Linked DNA regions of Homo sapiens. The protein of the gene in region 2 purifies or fractionates together with the protein of the main gene of each other region. This does not show direct contact. Each region holds a gene or a part of one and is shown on either strand. Other genes may lie near its edges. The genes, in order: CREB3L2, PABIR2 and PLOD1.

Evidence for each region.
Region 1: the proteins of PABIR2 (region 2) and CREB3L2 purify together in Homo sapiens (co-immunoprecipitation; one large-scale study listed by IntAct). This does not show direct contact.
Region 3: the proteins of PABIR2 (region 2) and PLOD1 purify together in Homo sapiens (affinity purification with mass spectrometry; 2 studies listed by BioGRID and IntAct, with this or other methods). This does not show direct contact.

The regions. Positions count from the first base shown.
Region 1 is NC_000007.14:137,901,012-137,904,666, forward strand, and holds part of CREB3L2 (cyclic AMP-responsive element-binding protein 3-like protein 2), read right to left. Parts: intron 3,007-3,655; coding exon 2,948-3,006; intron 412-2,947; coding exon 343-411; intron 1-342. UniProt on the Homo sapiens protein: Transcription factor involved in unfolded protein response (UPR).
Region 2 is NC_000023.11:134,787,173-134,790,827, forward strand, and holds part of PABIR2 (PABIR family member 2), read right to left. Parts: intron 2,465-3,655; coding exon 2,408-2,464; intron 2,095-2,407; coding exon 2,051-2,094; intron 1,968-2,050; coding exon 1,913-1,967; intron 1,660-1,912; coding exon 1,558-1,659; intron 362-1,557; coding exon 300-361; intron 1-299.
Region 3 is NC_000001.11:11,972,708-11,976,183, reverse strand, and holds the end of PLOD1 (procollagen-lysine,2-oxoglutarate 5-dioxygenase 1 isoform 2 precursor), read right to left. Parts: intron 3,313-3,476; coding exon 3,187-3,312; intron 1,532-3,186; coding exon 1,376-1,531; 3' UTR 647-1,375; downstream 1-646. UniProt on the Homo sapiens protein: Part of a complex composed of PLOD1, P3H3 and P3H4 that catalyzes hydroxylation of lysine residues in collagen alpha chains and is required for normal assembly and cross-linkling of collagen fibrils.

The DNA.
Region 1 (3,655 bases), on a different chromosome or scaffold from region 2:
CAGCTTCTTCTTCAATCCTGTATCATTTAGGAAAAGTAAAGAATATGCATGTATGTGTACATGTATGTGCATATGAGAGTGTGTACATATGTGTATTGTGGATGTGAACATGAGAGCATGTGTGCATATGTGTTTGTATATGTGCAAGAGTAGCACGTGTGCATGCGTGTGTGTGTAGCAGGAGTGGGTGGGTGGAGTTTGGCCATGCTGAGCATCTCAGCACAACTGCACTTTCACTGTGACCTCCTCCACTTTTCTGCCATCCCTGGTTCTGGATTCTATCCTCTTCCTTCCCCATCTTCCATTGGTAGCGCAATCAGCTCTCAGTCCAGTGACACTTACCTATTAGTGTTCTCTAGAACCTCTACCTTCTTCCGAAGCTCCAAGTTCTCAGTTGAACAAGACTCCACTCTACAAAGGAGGGAGAAAGAAGAAAATTATTATCCATAGAGCAAACACTAAGCTAGGAGCTAGGGTGGAGGTAGGTGGGGATGAGGAAAAGGAGGGTTGGGGGGATCTGCCACCCCATGGAAGTGTGGGAAAGTATTGAAAGAAGGATGAAGAGACTTAAGAAAAAAAAAAAAATAGGCCGGGCACGGTGGCTCACGCCTGTAATCCCAGCACTTTGGGAGGCCGAAGCAGGCGGATCACAAGGTCAGGAGATAGAGACCATCCTGGCCGACATGGTGAAACCCTGTCTCTACTAAAAATACAAAAATTAGCTGGGCGTGGTGGCACGTGCCTGTAATCCCAGCTACTCGGGAGGCTGAGGCAGGAGAATCGCTTGAACCCAGGAGTCAGATGTTGCAGTGAGCCAAGATCGCCACTGCACCCCAGCCTTGTGACAGAGCAAGATCTGTCTCAAAAAAAAAAAAAAAAAAGAAAAATAGAAGGAGCTGGGGCCGGGCGTAGTGGCTCATGTCTATAATCCCAGTAATTTGGGAGGCTGAGGCAGGCAGATCACTTGAGGTCAGGAGCTCAAGAATAGCCTGGCCAACATGGTGAAACCCCATCTCTACTAAAAATGCAAAAATTAGCTGAGCATGGTGGTGTGTGCCTGTAATCCGAGCTACTTGGGAGGCTGAGACAGAAGAGTCACTTGAACCTGGGAGGCAGAGGTTGCAGTGAGCCAAGATCATGCCACAGCACTCCAGCCTGGGCCACAGAGCGAGACTCTGTCTCCAAAAAAAAAAAAAAAAAAGAGGGAGCTGAGTGATGAGTGCCTGAATAATGAAAGATGAATAGTGACAGTACAAAATATGACCCTCTTTTAGGGTGTTACAACCTCTTTCCTCTCACCTCCTCCCTAGTGTTCTCAATGCCCATCATACTTCTCCCTCTATACTACAGTAATCTGGATACTCCCAGCTACACTCTTACCAGGACTGATAAGAAGTGAAGAGACTTAAGCAAAGGGCAGGACGAGAGCCCAGGACTAGGAATCCTGGTGCTGGGGCACGCATGCCCAAAAGAGACAGTAAAGAGACTTTCATAGGAACATCTTGACCCTGGATGCCCATAGAAAATGGTGGGACAGCATGGGACTACAGTCTTCCCACGGTATTCAGGGGGGATTAGTTCCAGAACTCCCCACAGATACCAAAATCTCCAGATGCTCGAGTCCCTGATTAAAAAATGGTGTAGTATTTGTATATAACCTTTACATATCCTCCAGTATATGTTAATCATCTCTAGGTTATTTATAATACCAAACACAATGTAAATACTATGTAAATATGTGTTATCTTGTATTTATAGTTGTATTATTTTTTATTGTTGTAGTTTTTTTTTATTGAGTTGTTTGGTTTTGGCTTTGGTTTTTTGAGACAGAGTCTCACTCTATCATCAAGGCTATAGTGCAGTGGCACAATCACAGCTCACTGCAGCCTCAACTTCCTGGGCTCAAGTGATTCTCCCCTCTCAGCCTCCTGAGTAGCTGGGACCACAGATGTGCACCACCATGCCTGGCTAATTTTTTTTTATTTTTTAGGGGGTCTGGCTATGTTGCCCAGGCTGGTCTTGAACTCCTGAGCTCAAGCAATCCTCTCACCTTGGCCTCCCAAAGCACGGGGATTATAAGAGTGAGCCATCACACCCAGCCTATTGAAGTTTTTTTCTGAATATTTTAGACCCATGGTTGGTTGAATCTGAGGACGCTGAACCCCCAGATATGGAGAGCCAACTATACTTAATGCTGCATTACCAGTACTTAAGTCAGGTGATAGAAGCACTAAACTTTCAATAGTAGCTTTGAGAAACAGCCAGGAACCACCAGCCACTCCTTTCCCCAGATCCACATGAAGTTCATTTCTGGGTCTGGGGCCTCATGCCCATCTTAAAAATATCTTGGTTTGTTAGCTAAAGAACTAACTTCCAGGGCTAAGACAAAACTGTATTTAATTCATCTTTTTCTAACAGCCCGCCTGATATTACAGACTTTTCAAAAGAACAAAGATTGCCTTCAAGTGTTTTTGCAAAAAAAAAAAAACATGAATTGTAGTGGCTGGAAAATAAAGGCTGCCAACCTGACATCTTTCTTTCCCTATGTGCCCTCTCTAGAGCATGAAGGAGTGTGGCCAATGGGGGCTGATTAAGTAGCACTGCTCCTTTCAGCTAAAACAGGGCTTCTCCTGCTAGAAGTTCCAGGAATGTGCAGGAATGTTAATATTTGTATGTGTTTGAAAAGAAGTCTGTGAGGACTCCGGGGTCCTTGGCTGGCAGTGGTATGATTCAAACACCTACTAAGGTACTTTCACTTCTTTCTTGCTTTATTATAGACGTCTCCTCCAAATAACCACTAGGTGGCAGGCAAACCACAGCTGATAAACCACCGGGTTTCCAAGGTGGCCAGAAAGAGGAATTGAACTGCTTCTCCCCGATTCTCCGCACACCCATATTTCCCTGTGCATACTGCCCGATGAACGCAACAGTTTGCCAGCAGGCTTACTTTTTCTCCAGGCTGTCCATGTATTCTTTCTTCTTTCTCCTACTTTCCTGAGCAGAAATCTGAGAGAGAGGAGTGGGAGGAGAATGATTAATTTCCAGCTCTGTAAGTAAACCAGTTAAGATGGGAGGTGGTTAGCGTAGAAGTCACCAAAGCCCTGCTTACTTCTGCAAGCTGCTTGCCATTTGTTTAAGCTGCTGGTTCATTGACTAGTCTGTCCTCCCGGGTTTCTAGCTGCCAAACTCACACCTACTTTCCTACAAACCAGGCCACCAGTAAAATGGACACTGAGTGGCCAGGAGCAGTGGCTTACACCTGTAATCCCAACACTTTGGGAGGCTGAGGTGGGCGGATCACTTGAGGTCAGGAGTTCGAGACCAGCCTGGCCAACATGGTGAAACCCTGTCTCCATTAAAAATACAAAAAAATGGCAGGCGCAGTGGCTCTAGCCTGTAATCCCAGCACTTTGGGAGGCCAAGGCGGGTAGATCACCTGAGGTCAGGAGTTCAAGACCAGCCTGGGCAACATGGTAAAACCCCGTCTACTAAAAATACAAAAATTAGCTGGGCGCGGTGGTGCATGCTTGTAATCCCAGCTAATTGGGAGGCTGAGGCAAGAGAATCGCTTGAGTCCGGGAGGCAGAGGTTGCAGTGAGCTGACATTGTGCCACTGCACTCCAGCCTAGGTGACAGAGAGAGACTCCATCTCAAA
Region 2 (3,655 bases):
CACTGCAACCTCCGCCTGCTTGGTTCAAGCGATTCTCCTGCCTCAGCCTCCCGAGTAACTGGGATTACAGGCGCCTGCCACCAGGCCCAGCTAATTTTTCTATTTTTAGTAGAGACGAGGTTTCACCATGTTGGCCAAGCTGGTCTTGAACTCTTGACCTCAGGTAATCCACCAGCCTCGGCCTTCCAAAGTGCTAGGATTACAGGTGTGAGCCACTGCGCCCAGCCACAAAAAGCTAATCTGAGAGATAAATGTAATGAATGGTACTTCAACCACATTTAAAATTCAAGTTTGCTTACCTTGAAAATCGTCTTGGACTGGGAACTGGACTTGGTGGCAATCCACTGCTGCTCACGAACATCTGTAAGAAGGGTGAAAAACATTACTAGAAAAAACATATTCAATATTAAAATAGTTCTAGCACTCCAGTTTTCTTTCTTTTTTTTTTTTTTTTTTTTTTTTAGAGACAGGGTCTCTCTTTTGCTCAAGCTGGAGTGCAGTGATGCGATCATAGCTTACTGCAGCCTCGAACTCTTGGGCTCAAGCCATCTTCCTGCCCCACCTTCTTGATGAGCTAGGACTACAGGTGTGCGCCACCATGCCCGACTAATTTTTTTGTATCTATTTTTTTTTTTTTAATGTAGAGATGGGGTCTCGCCATGTTGCCCAGGCTGCTCTCGACCTCCTGAGCTCAAGTGATCCTCCCACCTTGGCCTCCCAAAGAGTTGGAATGATTACAGGTATAAGCCACCATACCAGGCCCACAATCATTTTCAAAAGGTTCTTTTCAAAATGACAGAAACAATATCTTTAGAATTGCTTGGCTGTCTGTGTGTCTCATAACTAAATTACATATATATATATGTAATATATATGTAATATACACGTTATATATATGTAATATACACGTTATATGTGTAATATATACACGTTATATATGTGTAATATATACACGTTATATATGTGTAATATATACGTTATATATGTGTAATATATACACGTTATATATGTGTAATATATACACGTTATATATGTGTAATATATACACGTTATATATGTGTAATATATACACGTTATATATGTGTAATATATACACGTTATATATGTGTAATATATACACGTTATATATGTGTAATATATACACGTTATATATGTGTAATATATACACGTTATATATGTGTAATATATACACGTTATATATGTGTAATATATACACGTTATATATGTGTAATATATACACGTTATATATGTGTAATATATACACGTTATATATGTGTTATATATGTTATATATGTGTTATATATACGTTATATATGTAATATATACGTTATATATGTAATATGTTATATATATGTAATATATATGTTATATATATATATATTTTAAGAAGACCAAGAATATACATATATATATGTATATTTTCCAAATTACTGCTGTAGATTTTCATTGATTTTCCTTCAAGGCATTGGATACTTTAAAAGTGGGGTGATTTGTGTGTGTTTTAGAGTAAACAGCTCAGTTTGTGAAATACACTTAATATCTTGTCAGTTATCCTACCTTTCCGAATCCCCTGGTGGGTGAAGGTGCTGGAGAAACTGGAGTGAAGTCAATTCTCTTAGGAGAATATAATTTCTCCGGCTTGTCAAAATCACTGTCACTCTGTAAACATAAAGTGTCATCTCCTCATAATAAATTCAGCACATCACAGCTCTTACTTACTACTATAACACACCCAGATTTTCCAAGGAGAAAGGTATAGACTCTAATATTCTGCTGGAAAAGCAGAGATCAAAAAACAAGTATCAATTTGGAAGTAGAAGGGGAAAGAAGTGTGCGAAAAAATTAATGAACCTAGTGAACAACATAAAAGTTTCTAGAAAATGAAAACCAAACAGACATGAGCAAACTTTACCAGGCTCAAGCTCTCATCCCATGATTGGCTTATCTGCATTGCCGTTTGCATTTCCCTAAAATAAACAAAGGGAAGGGCCGTCAGTGTTTACAAACAAGACACTTATTAGGCTAGGCCCTGCTCTTGCAAAGCACTAACCTTTCATGTGCAGTTTCTCTGTTCACCATATCCAGGCCTTCTTCCTGCAAAGACAAACATATATGCTAAAAAGGCAGGATCACTGACAAAATATTAACTCTTCCACACACTGCAATTTTTATCCACATAGTTCTCTGCTTCAAATAAAATAAAAAGACTTTTTCTACCTCATTGACATAATCACAGTAGAGTGGAACATTCATGCCGCTTGTATATTTTATCTACACGCTCCAGAAGAATTATAATCTGTCTCCAACTAACCAGAGTTGCATCCTAATTCATTTTAATATCTACGTCTTTAAAATAAAAATGTAAAATCCAAAAAATTTCCAATCTGAGCTAGTAAGTAAAATTTACCCTTTTGATCTGATGCAGTCTGCTACTAGGAATACGATTAGGTGAGGATGACAGCAACTGGAAAGAAAAAGTAAACATTTACTATTTTCTGAATCACAAAGCAGCAGTCTGCTGTCAGTACTGGCGTACAACCTCTTCCTAGGTAAGTTTTCATATTCTTCTTCAAAATTTAGCTCTTTAGATCACTGAACGTTAATGCACTAAAGGCAGTACATTTAGTCTTCAAAAAGTACACCAGGTGTCCAACCTCAAAGCGCCATCTGTTGCTAGACAGACACTGACTTCAGCACTTTTCCCAAATGAATGTGAAGCTACGTAAATTTAGAGAAATAAAGACTATGGGCCTTAGAAATATCCATTATCCCACTTATCTAAAATAAAGAACAATATGAGAAGGGAAAGAAAAAAAAACACCAATGTTATTAATTTTTATTATCAATGCAGCAATGGGGGAAGACAGGCTAATAAGTCTAGTATATAATATTTTGTCTATGATTGATGATTTTCAAAAACACTTTAAAACTGCAATAAGGAGGTTTTGCTTTCACGATCCAAATCCATTCTAAAATCTCATCATATGCTATCACTACAAATCTTACTAGTTAACAAAAAACAATTTGGAAAGACAAGGTGTATCTTTAAAATAACTGATGCTTTCCCTTAGATCATCATTTTTTAATAACACAAAGCAGAAATGATTTGGAGGCCAAATTATGTTCCTTCACAATAATTACAAGCTGGTCACAAACTGTAAGACACAATTCATATCAACAGGTCTTAGAGAGTTCTAGTGGTCATAATATAAACGACTACTATTTATTCTATAACGAAATGCAAGTGAACTTGTAATACTATAAAACCAAATAACAATTATCCTGTTTAAGAGGCCCTACACTATTAAAACTTATTTGAATACTAATGTAGTGAGCAGTATAAAATAGTGATAAAATGCTCTAAGTTTCTTTTTATTTTTTTTTGAGACAGAGTTTCGCTCTTGTTGCCCAGGCTGGAATGCAATGGCATGATCTCTGCTCACTGCAACTTCCGCCTCCCAGGTTCAAGTGATTCCCCTGCCTCAGCCTCCTGAGTAGCTGGGACTACAGGCACACACCACCATGCCCAGCGAATTTTTACAACCATTAAGGGAGACTGGAGTATAAGATAAATGTATTTTAGTAGAGACGGGGTTTCATCATGTTGGCTAGGATGATCTCGATCTCCTGACCTCGTGATCCTCCTGCCTTGGCC
Region 3 (3,476 bases), on a different chromosome or scaffold from region 2:
GGCCTCAAAAATCTTTTTTAAAAGACTTTCAGGCCTGGGATGGTGGCTCACGCCTGTAATCCAGTACTTTGGGAGGCCGAGGCGGATGGATCACCTGAGGTCAGGAGTTCGAGACCAGCCTGGCCAACACGGTGAAATGAAACCCCGTTTCTACAAAAAATACAAAAATGTGTCAGGCATGGATACCTATAATCCCAGCTACTCAGGGGTCGAGAGGCTAGCATGACCTTTCTTAAAGGCTCTAAAAAGAGGGCTCTTGGCCGGGCACGGTGGCTCATGCCTGTAATCCCAGCACTTTGGGAGGCCGAGGTGGGTGGATCATCTGAGGTCAGGAGTTCAAGACCAGCCAGACCAACCTGGTGAAACCCTTTCTTTAATAAAAAAACAAAAATTAGCCAGGCGTGGTGATGGGTGCCTGTAGCCCCAGCTGCTCGGAAGGCTGAGGCAGGAGAATTACTTGAACCCAGGAGGCGGGGGTTGCAGAAAGCGGGGATAGCGTCATTGCACTCCAGCCTGGAAGACAGAGTGAGACTCTGTCTCAAAAAAAGAAAAAAAAAAAAAAAGAGGGCTCTTAAAACCTCTCTCCCTGCAGACACTCACACCAAGACACACACACACCCACTCGCCCTGAGCATCTTCCCTTCAGTGGTTTAAATGACCTTTAATAGAAACTCTCCAGTTTCTGACGGTCTGTCCCTCTCTTCAGAGGCATCCAGGACAGGGTGACCCAGTGTGGTGTGTGGACCTGTCACTCCCCTCCCCACAGGCAAGTAGAAGATCGAGCTGTGCACAGATGCCTCTTCTGTCTCCCAAGAGGTTCTCTGGAGTCGCTGTCTCCAGGGGACTACGGTTTGCTCTCATGACCAGCCATGGAGGCAGAAGTCCCAGACTCAGGGCAGCCCTTGGAGTCTGATCCAGGTGTCTTTACCCCAAAACTTGAAGCAGAAGTCCCTGGTGCAACACCTGTGCCTGGGAGAAGCTCTGGCCATGGCTTCTCACCCAGACAGTCTTTCTGGGCAACTTGGGGAAGCCCCTGTTCTGCTCAAGTCTCACCCCATGGAAGAGGTGGGGGAAGGGGGCCTTGGTTTTTCAGGAAGACAGGTTGGAGAGCACGAGTCACTACAAAGCAGTAAAAGTGAATGGTGTCTCCAGGGGCTGGGTCCAGAACACCACGGAGAGCCCCAGCCATAAAGGTGTGTTCCGCCTCTGGCCTGCAGGAATCTCTTTGAATCTCTTTGATTGGTGGCTCCAAGAGCAATGGGAAGTCAACAGCCAGGAGGCTGGACTGGGTTCCCTGGGACCCCGAGGTCCCAGAGGCTGCTGGGCAGTGGTTGTCGGCAAAGAAGAAAGGTCCAAGAGGGTCAGGCCTGGCCAATTAGGGATCGACGAAGGAGACTGCGATGTAGCGGGTGCCCCTGGTGGTGGGGAGCCCCTCATGGTAATGCGTGAGTCGTCCAGGGTGCATGAGGGTCCAGCCCTTCCTTGGGGCTCGGATGGAACAGTTGTAGCGCAGGAACCGACAGCCCCCGCCCTGGGAGACAGAAAGCATCAGTGGCCTTTCCCCACCGCCCCCCTGCCCGTCTGTTCTCCCGTCATGATCTCCTGTCATGGCCAAGTGGCCCTCAGCACTGCCTGCCTGGGGATGCCTTCTGGAGTGACAGCCACAAGCGCTGCTAAGGAAGACACTAAATGAAGAGTAGTGGCCAGGAGTGGTGGCTCACGCCTGTAATCCCAGCACTTTGGCAGGCCAAGGCGGGTGGACCACCTGAGGTCAGGAGTTCAAGACCAGCATGGCCAACATGGTGAGACCCCATCTCTACTAAAAATACAAAAACCAGCTGGGTGTAGCAGCGCACGCCTGTAATCCCAGCTATTCGGGAAGCTGAGACAGAATCACTTGAACCCAGGAGGCAGTGAGCCGAGATCGCGCCACTGTACTCCAGCCTGGGCAACAGAATGAGACTGTCTCAAAAAAAAAAAAACCCAAAGAGTAAGTGATCAAGAGCTCTGTCCTTGGAGTCAGGCAGCCCTGGGCAGACATCACCTCCACTCTTTACTAACTGTGACCAACCTGAGCTTCAGTTTCCCCTTCTGTAAAATGAGGGTTAAACAGAACAGGATAGTGAGAATTAAATGAGATGTTACAATTGAGAGCTGAGGATCAAGCTTCCCAACCTCACCACTATAGACACTTTGCTGTGGAAGGCTGTCCCGGGCATCTCTGACTTCTACCCACTAGATGCCAGTAGCCCCTCATAGTTGTAAAAACCAATTATGTCTCCAGGTACTGCCAATGTCCCTTGCAGGCCACAGTTGCTCCTGGTTGAGAATCCTTGGATTAGGGATGCCTGATATGTTTGTTGTAAGCTCTCAAAAAATTATAGCTCCAGCCTGGGCAACATAGTGAAACCCCATCTCTAAAAGCAAGAAAAAAAATTAGCTGGCCATGGTGGCACACGCCTGTGGTCCCAACTACTTGGGGGGGCTGAGGTGGGAGGATTGCTTGGGCCCAGGAGGTTGAGGCTGCAGTGAACTGTGATCATGCCACTACACTCCAGCCTGGGTGACAGAGCAAGACCCTGTCTCGAAAAAGAAAAAAAAAAGGATTATAGCTGTTTTTATGAGTGTTCTCCACAGCACCCAGCCCAGGGCTAAGTTCAAAAAACCTCTTTTTGTTTTTTTTGGAGACAGAGTCTCGCTCTGTTGCCCAGGCTGGAGTGCAGTGGCATGATCTCAGCTCACTGCAACCTCCACCTCTTGGGTTCAAGAGATTCTCATGCCTCAGCCTTCTGGGTAGCTAAGATTACAGGTGTGTGCTACCACGCCCAGCTAATTTTTCTATTTTTAGTGGAAATGGGGTTTCGCCATGTTGGCCAGGCTGGTCTCAAACTCCTGGCCCCAAGTGATCTGCCTGCCTTGGCCTCCCAAACTGCTGGGATTGCAGGCATCAGCCACCATGCCGAGCCCAAAAATCTCTTAAAATAGTAGCTTAAGAGCCTGGCCCCTCCTCCTGCTAGACTGTGAACCCTTCCAGGAAGCCCTCCCACAGACCCACATCCTTTTTTTTCTGGTTCTCTGGCACTGGTTACCTGGGGCCCCTCTGCCTCAACCACCCTGAAGCCTCTCCTCAGCTAGCCCTCCTCATCCCCATTGCCGGCCCCTTGACCCCGGCTGGCTCCTGCTCACCTCGTAATCCACCCCGACTCGGTTCAGGGCGATGTTGATGGTGAAGGTGGAGGCATCATGGTGTGGCATCAGTGAGGGCTGCTCATCAGGCTTGTAGCGGACGACAAAGGCCAGGTCAAACTGGGCCTGTACCAAGGCAGGGGGACAAGAGAGCCCGTGTTAGTTAAGGAGGACACAAAGGCCAGGAGAGGAGGGTGCACACATGGGGCCTGGTCTGGCCTGCTGCAGGTCAGCTTACAGGGGCCAGGTCTACATGGGGCTCTATGCTCGAGTGCCTGCAACTACCTGGC